Regions from separate parts of the Homo sapiens genome. Here all the other regions are linked to region 3. The links come from fine-mapping of genetic effects on gene expression. A gene starts in region 3. Each other region holds a variant in brackets. All regions are shown on one strand. Distances are from middle to middle. Region 1 overlaps EPS15 (epidermal growth factor receptor pathway substrate 15). Region 2 has its middle 16 kb from the start of TTC39A. Region 3 holds the start of EPS15 (epidermal growth factor receptor pathway substrate 15). Region 4 overlaps EPS15-AS1 (EPS15 antisense RNA 1).

Region 1 (2,608 bases), 67 kb before region 3:
GGTATATCCATATAATGAAATACTATAAAGCATTAAAAAAATCACAAAGAACATTGTGTGTCTTAACTGTGGTGGTGCCTTCAGGCATATAATTGCCAAAACTCATCAAATTATATACTTAAATTGGATGCAGTTTGTTGTGGATAGCCTTGAATAATGCTAACCAGGAAAAAAAGAATCATGGAGCTCTCATAGTGAAAAGGTATCCAAGATAAACTGTTAACTATGAAAAAGTATAGTGTTGAACAGTGTGTTTAGTGGGTTATCTTTTGTGGTAAGGAGGAAATAATTAGTTATATTTGTTTATATTTGCATTAAGAAATTCTAAGATAGGCTGGGCGTGGTGGCTCACGCCTGTAATCCTAGCACTTTGGGAGGCTGAGGTGGGTGGATCACCTGAGGTCAGGAGTTCGAAACCAGCCTGGCCAACATGGTAAAACTCCATCTCTACTAAAAATACAAAAAAATTAGCCAGGCGTGGTGGCGCATGCCTGTAATCCCAGCTACTTGGGAGGCTGGGGCAGGAGAATTGATTGACCTTGGGAGGTGGAGACTGCAATGACCTGAGATTGTGCCACTGCACTCCAGCCTGGGAAACAGAGAGAGACTCCATCTCAAAAAAAAAAAAAAAAAAGAAAGAAAGAAAGAAAAGAAAAAAAAAGAAATTCTAAGATAAATAAGAAATTAAGAAAATTAGGCATAGAATAGGGATAAATGGAGCAATTGAGAGCAGGGGTGGAAATGAGATTTTTTTCACTGTATATCTTCTTATATTGATTCTTGAACCATGACAAGTATTTTTAATACATAAAGCACTTGCACAAAATGGGAAAAATTTGCATACAGACTGTCCCAGAATATATTCTCTTCATTTTAAAGCATTCAAGGTACCTTCAACACTTTCAGAGCATGAAAGTTTTCCATAACTATCTTTTAGCATATGAAATCACTCAAACTAACTTGGAACCTCTAGAAAGAGTCCAGCAACCACGAAAAGAAAGCTTGCATGTTTCTTAAATTTTTATTTCTTTTTTTTTGGTTGGTTTGTTTTTTGCCCAGCACAGTGACGCAATCTTGGCTCACTACAACCTCCGTCTCCTGGGCTCAAGCCTTCCTCCCACCTCAGTCTCCCAAGTAGCTGGGTCTACAGGTAAACGCCACCAAACCCAGCTAATTTTTTTTTTTTTAAAGAGATGAGGATTAGCCATGTTGCCCAGGCTGGTT[G/T]GTCTCCAACTTCTGAGCTCAAGCGATCCACCCACCCCAGCCTCCCAAAATGCTGGGATTACAGGTGTGAGCCACTGAGCCCAGTCTCTTGTTAAATTTTTTCTTCCAGAGAAAATTTGCATATAATCATATATTAAGTTTTGTGGGGCTTTCACATATATTTATATATTTATTTAATTTGTTTATTTTATTTAATAATTTATTGACAAAGGCTCACTCTGTTGCCCAGGCTGGAATGCAGTGGCGAGAACACAGCTTGCTGCAGCCTCAACCTCCCAGGCTCAAGTGAGTCTCTCACCTCAGCTTCCCAAGTAGCTGTGACTACATGCGTACGTCACCATGCCTGGCTAATTTTTTTATGTTTTGCAGAGATGGGGGTCTCACTACGTTGCTCAGGTTGGTATCAAACTTCTGGGATCAAGTAAGCCACCACACCCAACCCCTCAATTTATTTATTGAGCACTCAATGCAACAACATTCATCACTGATTTCCAGGATTACCAATCTCATTTTACAAATGAACACACTGAAGCTAAGATGCTAAGTAACTTGCCCAATATAATATTTTTAAGAAGTGATACAGTGGGGTTCAAACCAACATCTTCTGGCTACAAAGCTCTTGTTTTTTCCAAATTTGATCAGCTTTATTAGCAGCACATATGTAATCTTACAATACCACGCTGTCCTTTACAAGCGATAAAACTAAACCTTAACCCATTGGTACCCAAATTTTAGCAGGCATCAGAATTACCTGGACAGCATGATAAAGCACAGATTTCTGGCCCCTGCACTCAGAATTTTCTAACCAGCAAGGTTGGGCCTGAGAATTTGCATTTTTAACAAGTTCCCGAATGATGCTGATGCTGTTTGTCCAGGAACCACACTTAACCAAGAATTCTCCTCTCCTTTTTCACTAGCCAACCTAGAAGAATTCAATTTCAGTTTTAGAAACACACAAACTTTTTATTTCCAAAAGCCTGAAACTCCAGAAAGAAAACAATCTGACTAACATACACTTCCAACCAAATTCACAATATATGTACTGTGAAATTGTCAGAATGGCACTGAGCTAAGAGAAGTGCCTAGTGTACACATTAACAGTCAGCACTTCTCTTGCTGCAGATGGGAGTCATTTCCTGGAAAAGTGGACACTAGAAGCGAAAAAGCAACGTTAGCCATCTGCTGCCAATAGACAACACATTTTTATGAAAGTTAAAAATATATATTATTAATTTCATGTTGCCTTGAAAATAGTTTCCCTGGCAAAACTAAAGCCAAAAATTATACCTCCAAATAAAAGAGCAAAAGTGAACAGAATACTTTTAATACTGCTGGGTTGTGATTTTGTTTTCTTATTATATTGTACTTATTCCTATTAAAAGTA
Region 2 (2,608 bases), 170 kb before region 3:
CGCCTTCCGCCGAGTCCCCACCCCTGCCCGGTACCTGCGGTCGCTTTTCCCGGAGGCCGCCTCCTTCCAGGTGGTCAGAAAGGCCATGGGCGCGGGCCGGGCTCGGACGGGGCCGCGGGCGGCCCCTCGCGGCGGCGGCGGCGGCCGTGGAGGCTACAGTGGCAGCACCTGGACGGGGCGGGCAGGGCGGGACCCGTGGCTCCTCCCCGCCCTGGACCTGCGCCTCCCTGCCCCAAAGTGGAAGGGCTTAAGTGTCCCTAGAGCGGGCCTGAGGTCCCTGGGCAAGCCCACTCCCACCCAGAACCAGAAAGGACCCCAAACACTCTGAAACCCCTCATTGGGCACCGGGAGAAACGGAGCTCCAGGCTTTGTCCAAGGTCACAAGGGGGCCAGCGGCCGGTCCCACTCGGTCCAGAGCCCAGCCTCCAAACTGACGGGCCACACGATGGCCTTACCAGGGTCCCTGCGGGACATAGCAGCACCACCAACCCTGTTCCCTCCTCCCTACATACAGAGCCAGCTTTGCTAGGGCCTCGCCGGAATGGGGTCAGAAGCTCGGGACCGAGTCAAATGCTGGGCACAGAGCACCAGCAGCAGGGGGCTGATGGGCAGGGAAGTGGAGAGCAGCTGTCTGGGCCTGAGGGTGGAGGCTGCAGGCCAGGCCAGGCCCTGGAGTGACCCACTTCACCGACTTATGAGTCCAGTACCCCGTGGCAGGTCGGGGGACAGAGGAGAATGAGCCACCGCCCCATCTCCAGTGTAAACTTTCTTTGAAGCCCCACATTTCATCTTAGGCTGCGTACATTTTTGGTTTTTATTTTAAATTACCACCACCAAGCAGAATCAGCTCTGGAGCAAGGGGATCCCCTGGCGTGCAGTCCAGGGGCTTTTATGGGAGGCCCAACTAAGGACAAGGAGCAGGGGAGCACCGTGAGGAGGCATTTGAGAAGGCCTGCTCCAGCTCCAGTGTGAAGAATGGATTCAGGGACCCCTGGAGATTTAGCTCATCAGAGAAGGTGGGGGTTGAACACAGGGCAGGGGCAGGGTGGCTAAGGCCCATTTTTGTTTCCTTTTGGGCTGGGTCTGTATCCTAGGTACTTGTGCAATACAAATTTCGTGTCCAATAAGTGGTGACTGGTTTTCACATGTCAGGTGTTCTCTCATGTGTCAAGCCCTGAGCCAGGCAGTTTACACCAATTCTTATTTATCTGCATCTTGTTACATACTCACTCATCCCCATTTTACAGTTGATGAAACAGGTTCAGAGGGGTGAACGACCTTTCCTGAAACCAAGTTGTGAA[G/A]TCAGGTCTTACACCCAGGCTTCTCTGCCCAATCTGGTGCTTTCCTCCCACCCTGCCTATGGACCATGGGTGGGCTGAGCACGGAGTGGGAGGCCCTGGGCAAAGCTGCCCAGAGGGCAGAGGCTCTAAGGACCATCTGGGCAATTTCTCTCACTCTTCCCTGGTAGGCAGCAGAGAACATATGACCTTTCACTCATATCATGGTCTTTGCAGATCAACAAGGGCCGGGGAATACTGCTTATCTGATCACAAAGCTAGAGCTTCTAAATCTGGAAAATCCAGTTACAGTATGCCCAGGGACCCAAACCCCTTAGTCCAGAGCCTTGTCCAGCTTGGCCAGCACTGAGCACTTAGCCAACTTTCTCCTGGGTTCGCAGGCAAGAAGAGCCACAGGACCTCAGAAGCCTGACCTTCTATGGGCCCAGAGCCCAGTTTACTAAGAGGATTAATCTCACCGAGCCTGTCAGCCCACAGCCAGCACCACTTCCTCCAGGAAGCCATCCAGGATCTCCCCATCAGAGCGGTCTCTCCGTTTTCAGAGGATACATTTTGTCTCTCTCACAGCATTTAGCATTACATATTTTAAAATCCTTGTATAAGTTATTTACAATGGTATTTCAGATTTCTCTCTGAAGGTACAGATAGTATCTCATGTGTCTTCTACAGAGCTCAGCACTATTGCTATACATAGTAGGTACTCAATGGTGAGTAAATAAAGAAGGAGCTAATACCTATCAAGCTTCTACCCAATGGCAGGCACTATGCAGAGAGCCTTTACGTATCTACCTCTAATCTAGACAACTGTTTTAAGAATATTTGGGTCAGAAGTTTAGAAATGTTCCTAAGATCAAATCAGGAGCTGGGATTCAATCCCGGGGTTCTTAAACTTCAAGGCTTGTTTCTTATTCTTCTTCCTCATCTGTTTAGAATTATGTTACTTGGGCACTATTTTAAACTCTTCACATGTGCCAACTCATTTAGTCCTCAAAATAATCCTAACATGTATGTTCTTTTACAATCCCAATTTTATAGTTGAAAAAGTGAGGCAGGTAGGAATTAATTTGCTCAAGATCACACAAACTAGTTAAGTGGCAGAGCTAGGACTCAACACACACAGCCCGACTTGAGAATGTATATCTTAACCCTAGCCCTAGTTTTCCTGCCACGCAAGCTATTAGATGCACAAAGCATTTACAAGCCACTTTTTCAAGCTTATTTTGAATCATGTAATAAACCCAAGGTAGAATCAGTTTTATTCTTCCCATCCTCCCTTCCACTGGAGCCACACTGCTTAGGTTAAAATCTTG
Region 3 (2,608 bases):
ACATGAAGCATGTACGTGACTCCTGGTTTCTGAGAAAACATTTTTTTCTCTCTATCCTACAGTGCTAGGCAAAGCACCCCAAAGCCTCTTGATTTTAAACACAGAAAACTCCACTGCCGAAATGTTTGCCCTATCCCAGCGCTAAAGCCTTAGAAGCACCGACGAATCTAGGCCAAGGAGTACAAGATGGCAGTGAGATACCACAATGCAGGCAAGGAAGACGGGATGGGCCCCAATCGGGAAGCACGCGCCACCAGCTCTGGAGAGAACCGTCTGAGGAGACGCGGGGGAGAGTTTGGGTCACAGGAGCAGGAAGGAACTGGCAGGTGTCTGTCACCTTATCATCCCGGACACCATGTTTACATTGTAATTGGCTTCTTTACAGAGAGGGAGGGACCAGGTTCCCAGTGTGAGTGATGTTTAGAGGTTTTCTGAGAAGCACAAGGACTGGACTTTGACAGGAAGCAACGAGGCAAGAGGGAAGCTCGAGAACAGGTTTTGCTGAGGATTCCCCCCAAGAAAAGTGCTCCCCGGGAGGCCGTTCCTGGCACCAAGACTGGCGGAGCCACCACACCCGTTAAAGGGATCCACCTGGACAGCGATCAGGCGTGAGCCCCCCGAGGGGAAGTTGAAGTGGAAGCAGACGTGGGTGGCAAAAGGCTGCATTGGGGGTCTGACCCAGAAGGAAACCTGATCAGGAGGGGGGAGAGGCTGAACGGAGGAAGGGGCCGGCAGAGTGGGTAGTTGAGTAGGATGAGACTTCTTTGGAGGCGAGGCTAACTACATTAAACTCTGGGAAGGGAGGGCTTCCGTCGGACCCTGGGAGAAAGGCAGGTCTGGAGAGGAAAGACTGGCTTGGGGGGCCTGCGCGTCCGGCTCTGGAAGGCAACTCCTACTGGGGGCGGCGCGCAGCCGGCCTGGCGGGCGAGCCTCGTGCGGCCCGGGGGTGCGGCCGGCCCGCGCGAGCTCAACAGGAGCTCACCTGGGATGCGTGCGGCCCTGTGGGAGGAAACTTCCTGGGTAGGTGAAAGCTGCCCCGCGGGAGCCGGCCCGGCACCGGCAGAGCGCGGCCGGGTCACAGTCCACTCGGCAGCGGCGCGGAGGGCGGCGAGGGCCGCGCGGGGCGGGGCAGGAGGCGCCCGACGACCCTGGGCGAGGTCGCGGCGGCCGCAGGGGGGCTCCGGCTCCGGAGGGCGCCCTCCCGCAGTCGCACCCGCTTTCCCTCACACACACCGGCCGCCCGGCCCACAAGCCAAGAAGCTGCCTGCTTGGCCCACAAGCCAAGAAGTCGGCGAAGCTGAGGGCGGTGGGGGAGGGGGCACCGGCCGGCCAAGCCCGGCGGACGGGCGTGTGGCGTTACCTGTGTCAGAGAGAGCTGGGCCGCCGCAGCCATGGTGTTTCCATCATGCAAGGGAGGGGAAGGAAGACGGGCTGACTGGGGCTCGGGGCGGGGAGGAGGCGGAGGGAGCGGCCGCAGGCGAGGCCGGGGCGGGCGGGCGGGCGTCTCCCCTAACTTCCACAACTTCCCTCCCCACGCCCGCCCCGCCCCGCCTGGCCCCGCCCGCCTGCCCGCCCGCCGGAGCCGGCCGCGGCGCCGCCCAAACCCTGGCGCCGGAGTCTCGGCCACCGGACCAGAGCCTGCCCCCGGGGCCGCCTTGGAAAACCCGGCGCGGACATAAAATTAAAGCGGACGGGCTGCGGAGGCGACTGCAGATTGACCTGTGAACTTCAGACAGGCCACCTACCTACGCTGAGCTCCTGCTTCTGAAAAATGGGGGAAATTGTAACTAGAGGCCCAGTTACTTACAAAGACTAAATGAGATAATGATAGAAAATAATAATGGCACTTTATATATGCCAGGCTCTGTACTAGACTCTTATTTTTTGAATTGTATGAATGAAGGAACTGAAACACAAATAAGTGTCTTACTAAGGTCATACAGCTAATTATATAGCTGAATTAGAATCCAAGTCTAACTGTAAATATTTAACCATCTGCTAGTATATTGGAAAAGAAGACATTAAGTCATTCCCTCCCACAGCCAAAATCCATTTGGAAAGGGGAAGCAAAAATGTATTTGCCTGGTGCCTGTCACATTTAGATTGTTTAACAAGGGAACGCTGGTGCCTGTAGCACTCCTAGCTTCTCCCATCATCCACTTAGCAAACTCCTCCTTCTTTCTCAGGACATAATTCAAGTTTCACCTCCTTTGCAAAGTATCTTTTTCTCTTCCTTATGTCAGAGTTACACACTCTCCTTTATAACCTTTCTTCTCTACCTTGTGAAGTCATCACCCTAATGACAGTTTACACCTATCTATCCCTCTAGATTAAGAGCTCCTCAATGGCAAGAACTGTTTTCAATATATTTCTATATCGTCAGACCCTAGCATTACAGTGCATGCTCAGTAAAGGCCTTCGTTCCTGCCTATATTAAACATAACACATCCTACACCTTCTGATGCTGCCAACCTTCAGTTGGAATACCCAGTTACTTGAAATTCATCTTCAAAGTCTCAGAGTATATACCACCTACTTCAAGAAGCCTTCTAGGAACTCCACACCCCACCTCTAAGTTGTTCTGATGTGACCGTTTTTATACTCTGCC
Region 4 (2,608 bases), 42 kb after region 3:
GCCTGCTTACAGAGGTTGATAGAACCCAGAGCAATTAGTGTCAAATACTTTTAATTTTGTATATGAACAAAGATACAGTTTAAAATGTGTACCTTAATGTTTTCAGTGGGGGGATAAGCATTTTAATGAAATAATCAGATTAGGCATATTAATATGGTCACATATGTTTACAAGATGTAGAAAGTTCTCCTTATGTATTAAAAAGAGACAACTGTAAAAAAAAAATAACAATGCAAAGTGTATCCACATTCTTCAAATTAGATAGGAAGAAAAGAAAAGAAAGATACAATGTGTCCCTTCCTCCCTTCCTTCCTTTTCTTCTGAACCCTTCCCCACTCCCCAACACATGCTCCTGGTTATTTACATACATGACCTCCTTGTACTCCTATGTTGGTCTTCTTAAGCCAGAGAAGCAAGAAAGTATAAATAAATAAAGTAGAAAATAAATAAACAAACTAAGAAAGCTTCAAATAGAGGGCGTCTGTCCCAGAAACCTTCGGTGGCTCTGAACTGTAGAAATCACTGATCAGAGACACTGAGACACGTGGCCATGGGACTTTGCAGGATATACCCAAGGACAGGTGGCTGTGGCTTCCAGAGGCTCTGTTGTACAGTGGGTGTAATCAATACAGCAAAGGCTTTAGAGGCTGACAGACCTATGTTTGAATCGTGTCTCTACCATGCGTTAGCTGTGTGCTCTTGGACATGTCGCTTGGTGTTTCTGAGTCTCAATTCTCTCAAACATAAAATGAGGAAATAATAAGGGATAATAGTACTTACCTTATAGAGTTGTGAGAATTTGGGGAGGTAATGTAGGTAAAGCACTCACCCCAGGCCAGTGTTTAACAAAAGTGAGTTCCCTTCCTCTCCAGGGGAATTCTTCATCCAGGACTTTGTAGATTATAGTTTCTAACAGACTCCTGGGAGGAATCATGGCCAAGGCCTTTACTCTGGGGCCTTGAGCCACTCTCTTTTCTCCTGATTTGGGGAGGAGTCCTCCCCATCTTTCTTAATAAGTCTCAGAGAAGAAAGAGATGGAGAGGACAACAACTTTTTAAAGGCTGG[C/A]GTATTGGTCCCCTCCTTTTTACCTTCCAATTAAAGGAAAGAAGACTGGCAGAGAGAGGGAAGCTGGGTCAGGACTTATCATCATGGCTGGGGCAATCACCCCTAACATCTGTCCGGGAATTTTAATGTTTCAGAGTTTTACCACATCTCTGATTTCCCTTTATCCCTAGAAGCACCTCCAAGGATCACGTAGGACCAGCAGAAGCAGCGTAAAGTATTGGAACTTTGAATCTGACATCAGAAAGACCTGCACTCAGCCGGGCACGGTGGCTCACGATTGTAATCCCAGGCCGAGGCGGTGGATCACTTGAGGTCAGGAGTTGGAGACCAGCCTAGCCAACATGGTGAAACCCTGTCTCTACTAAAAATAGAAAAATTAGGCAGGCGTAGTGGTGCATGCCTGTAGTCCCAGCTACTCAGGAGGCTGAGCCAGGAGAATCACTTGAACCCAGGAGGCAAAGGTTGCAGTGAGCTGAAATTGCATCACTGCACTCCAGCATGGGTGACAGAGTAAGTGAGACTCTGTCTCAAACAAACACAAAAAGAGCTGTACTTAAATTCTAGCTTTTCTACTTACCTTAACAGATGTATGTCTTCAGGCAAATTATTTAACTTTTCTGAGTCTCCTTTTCACATTTAGAAGTAGGAGACTTTCACAGTGTCATATTTTCACCCCCATCAATATTATTGATGCTTGCTCATTTTCTAATGTGGGACCTGAAATTTACCAGGTGCTTAAAGAATCTTTTTGTTTTTCAGATTCACTGATTCTAGGTAAATCAGAGGAACAAGCAACATGAACAGAAAAAATGTAGAAAATGCAATTATGCTGAAGTACAATTGTTGTTTCAGAAGTCCAGCATCTGGTGTACTTAACAATAGAGAATATATTAAATTTTTCCAAAATAAAAAAAACAAGTAGGAGACTCGCTAGTGAAAATTAAATGGCATATGCAAAGTCTTTAATACAGCATTTGGTACATGAGAGGGACTCAGTAAATTTTAGTAACTTATAATTATTAGGAAGACTATGACTGCCCCCATTTAAAAGATCAGCAGTCTGAGGCTTATAAAGACCAAGACTTATTCAAGTCTTGTGATTTCCAGCCTGAGGCTCTTTCTACTTTGTGAAAACTGAGAGACTGTGGCTCAGTGGCTCTGAGCTCAGAGGGCTTTACCTGCCAAAGGTCCAGGCTGAGAACACTAATGTTATAATAGTGACAAATGGTGGCGTCAGGCTTATATTTAGGGTTGTCTATTTTGGGATGAATCTACTCCCCCTGGTAATTGGGATTTTCAATGATCCAAGGTTTCCATTCTCCCTAAGCAAAGAACCAGTGAACAAGGCATTAGTATTTTGTCATTCTTCTGATCTCATGCAATCAGAAAGGCCAATTGATATGGTTTGGATCTGTGTCCCCACCCAAATCTCATGTCAAATTGTAATCCCCAGTGTTGGAGGTGAGGCCTGGTGGGAGGTGATTGGATCATGGGGGCAGAGTTCTCATAAATGGTTTAGCACGATCCCCCCTTGGTACTGCAT

The links. PIP is the estimated chance that this variant, and not a neighbour inherited with it, causes the effect.
Region 1: its variant is the best candidate, but not a certain one, in a credible set for the expression of EPS15 in whole blood (INTERVAL, PIP 0.59).
Region 2: its variant is the best candidate, but not a certain one, in a credible set for the expression of EPS15 in whole blood (INTERVAL, PIP 0.77).
Region 4: its variant is the best candidate, but not a certain one, in a credible set for the expression of EPS15 in whole blood (TOPMed, PIP 0.62).

What each region holds. Positions count from the first base shown.
Region 1 is chr1:51,450,875-51,453,482 of GRCh38, forward strand. The region is part of intron 8 of EPS15 (epidermal growth factor receptor pathway substrate 15); the gene reads right to left. Among named protein-coding and RNA genes, the nearest start is that of EPS15-AS1, 66 kb to the right of the region's middle. The variant G/T (reference allele first, on the strand shown) is at 1,225.
Region 2 is chr1:51,344,957-51,347,564 of GRCh38, forward strand. It overlaps a transcript of TTC39A not described here. Among named protein-coding and RNA genes, the nearest start is that of TTC39A, 16 kb to the left of the region's middle. RefSeq lists a silencer at 1-309. The variant G/A (reference allele first, on the strand shown) is at 1,302.
Region 3 is chr1:51,517,839-51,520,446 of GRCh38, forward strand. It overlaps EPS15 (epidermal growth factor receptor pathway substrate 15), which reads right to left and starts at 1,428. Exons shown (of 25, transcript NM_001981.3): 1 at 1,361-1,428. The coding sequence starts at 1,393. EPS15-AS1 (EPS15 antisense RNA 1) reads left to right here and starts at 434. Exons shown (of 5, transcript NR_183651.1): 1 at 434-608. It also overlaps a transcript of OSBPL9 not described here. RefSeq lists an enhancer at 683-1,611 and silencers at 842-1,311, 1,462-1,651.
Region 4 is chr1:51,559,647-51,562,254 of GRCh38, forward strand. It overlaps EPS15-AS1 (EPS15 antisense RNA 1), which reads left to right. Exons shown (of 5, transcript NR_183651.1): 2 at 1,236-1,377. It also overlaps a transcript of OSBPL9 not described here and the pseudogene CALR4P. Among named protein-coding and RNA genes, the nearest start is that of EPS15, 42 kb to the left of the region's middle. The variant C/A (reference allele first, on the strand shown) is at 1,066.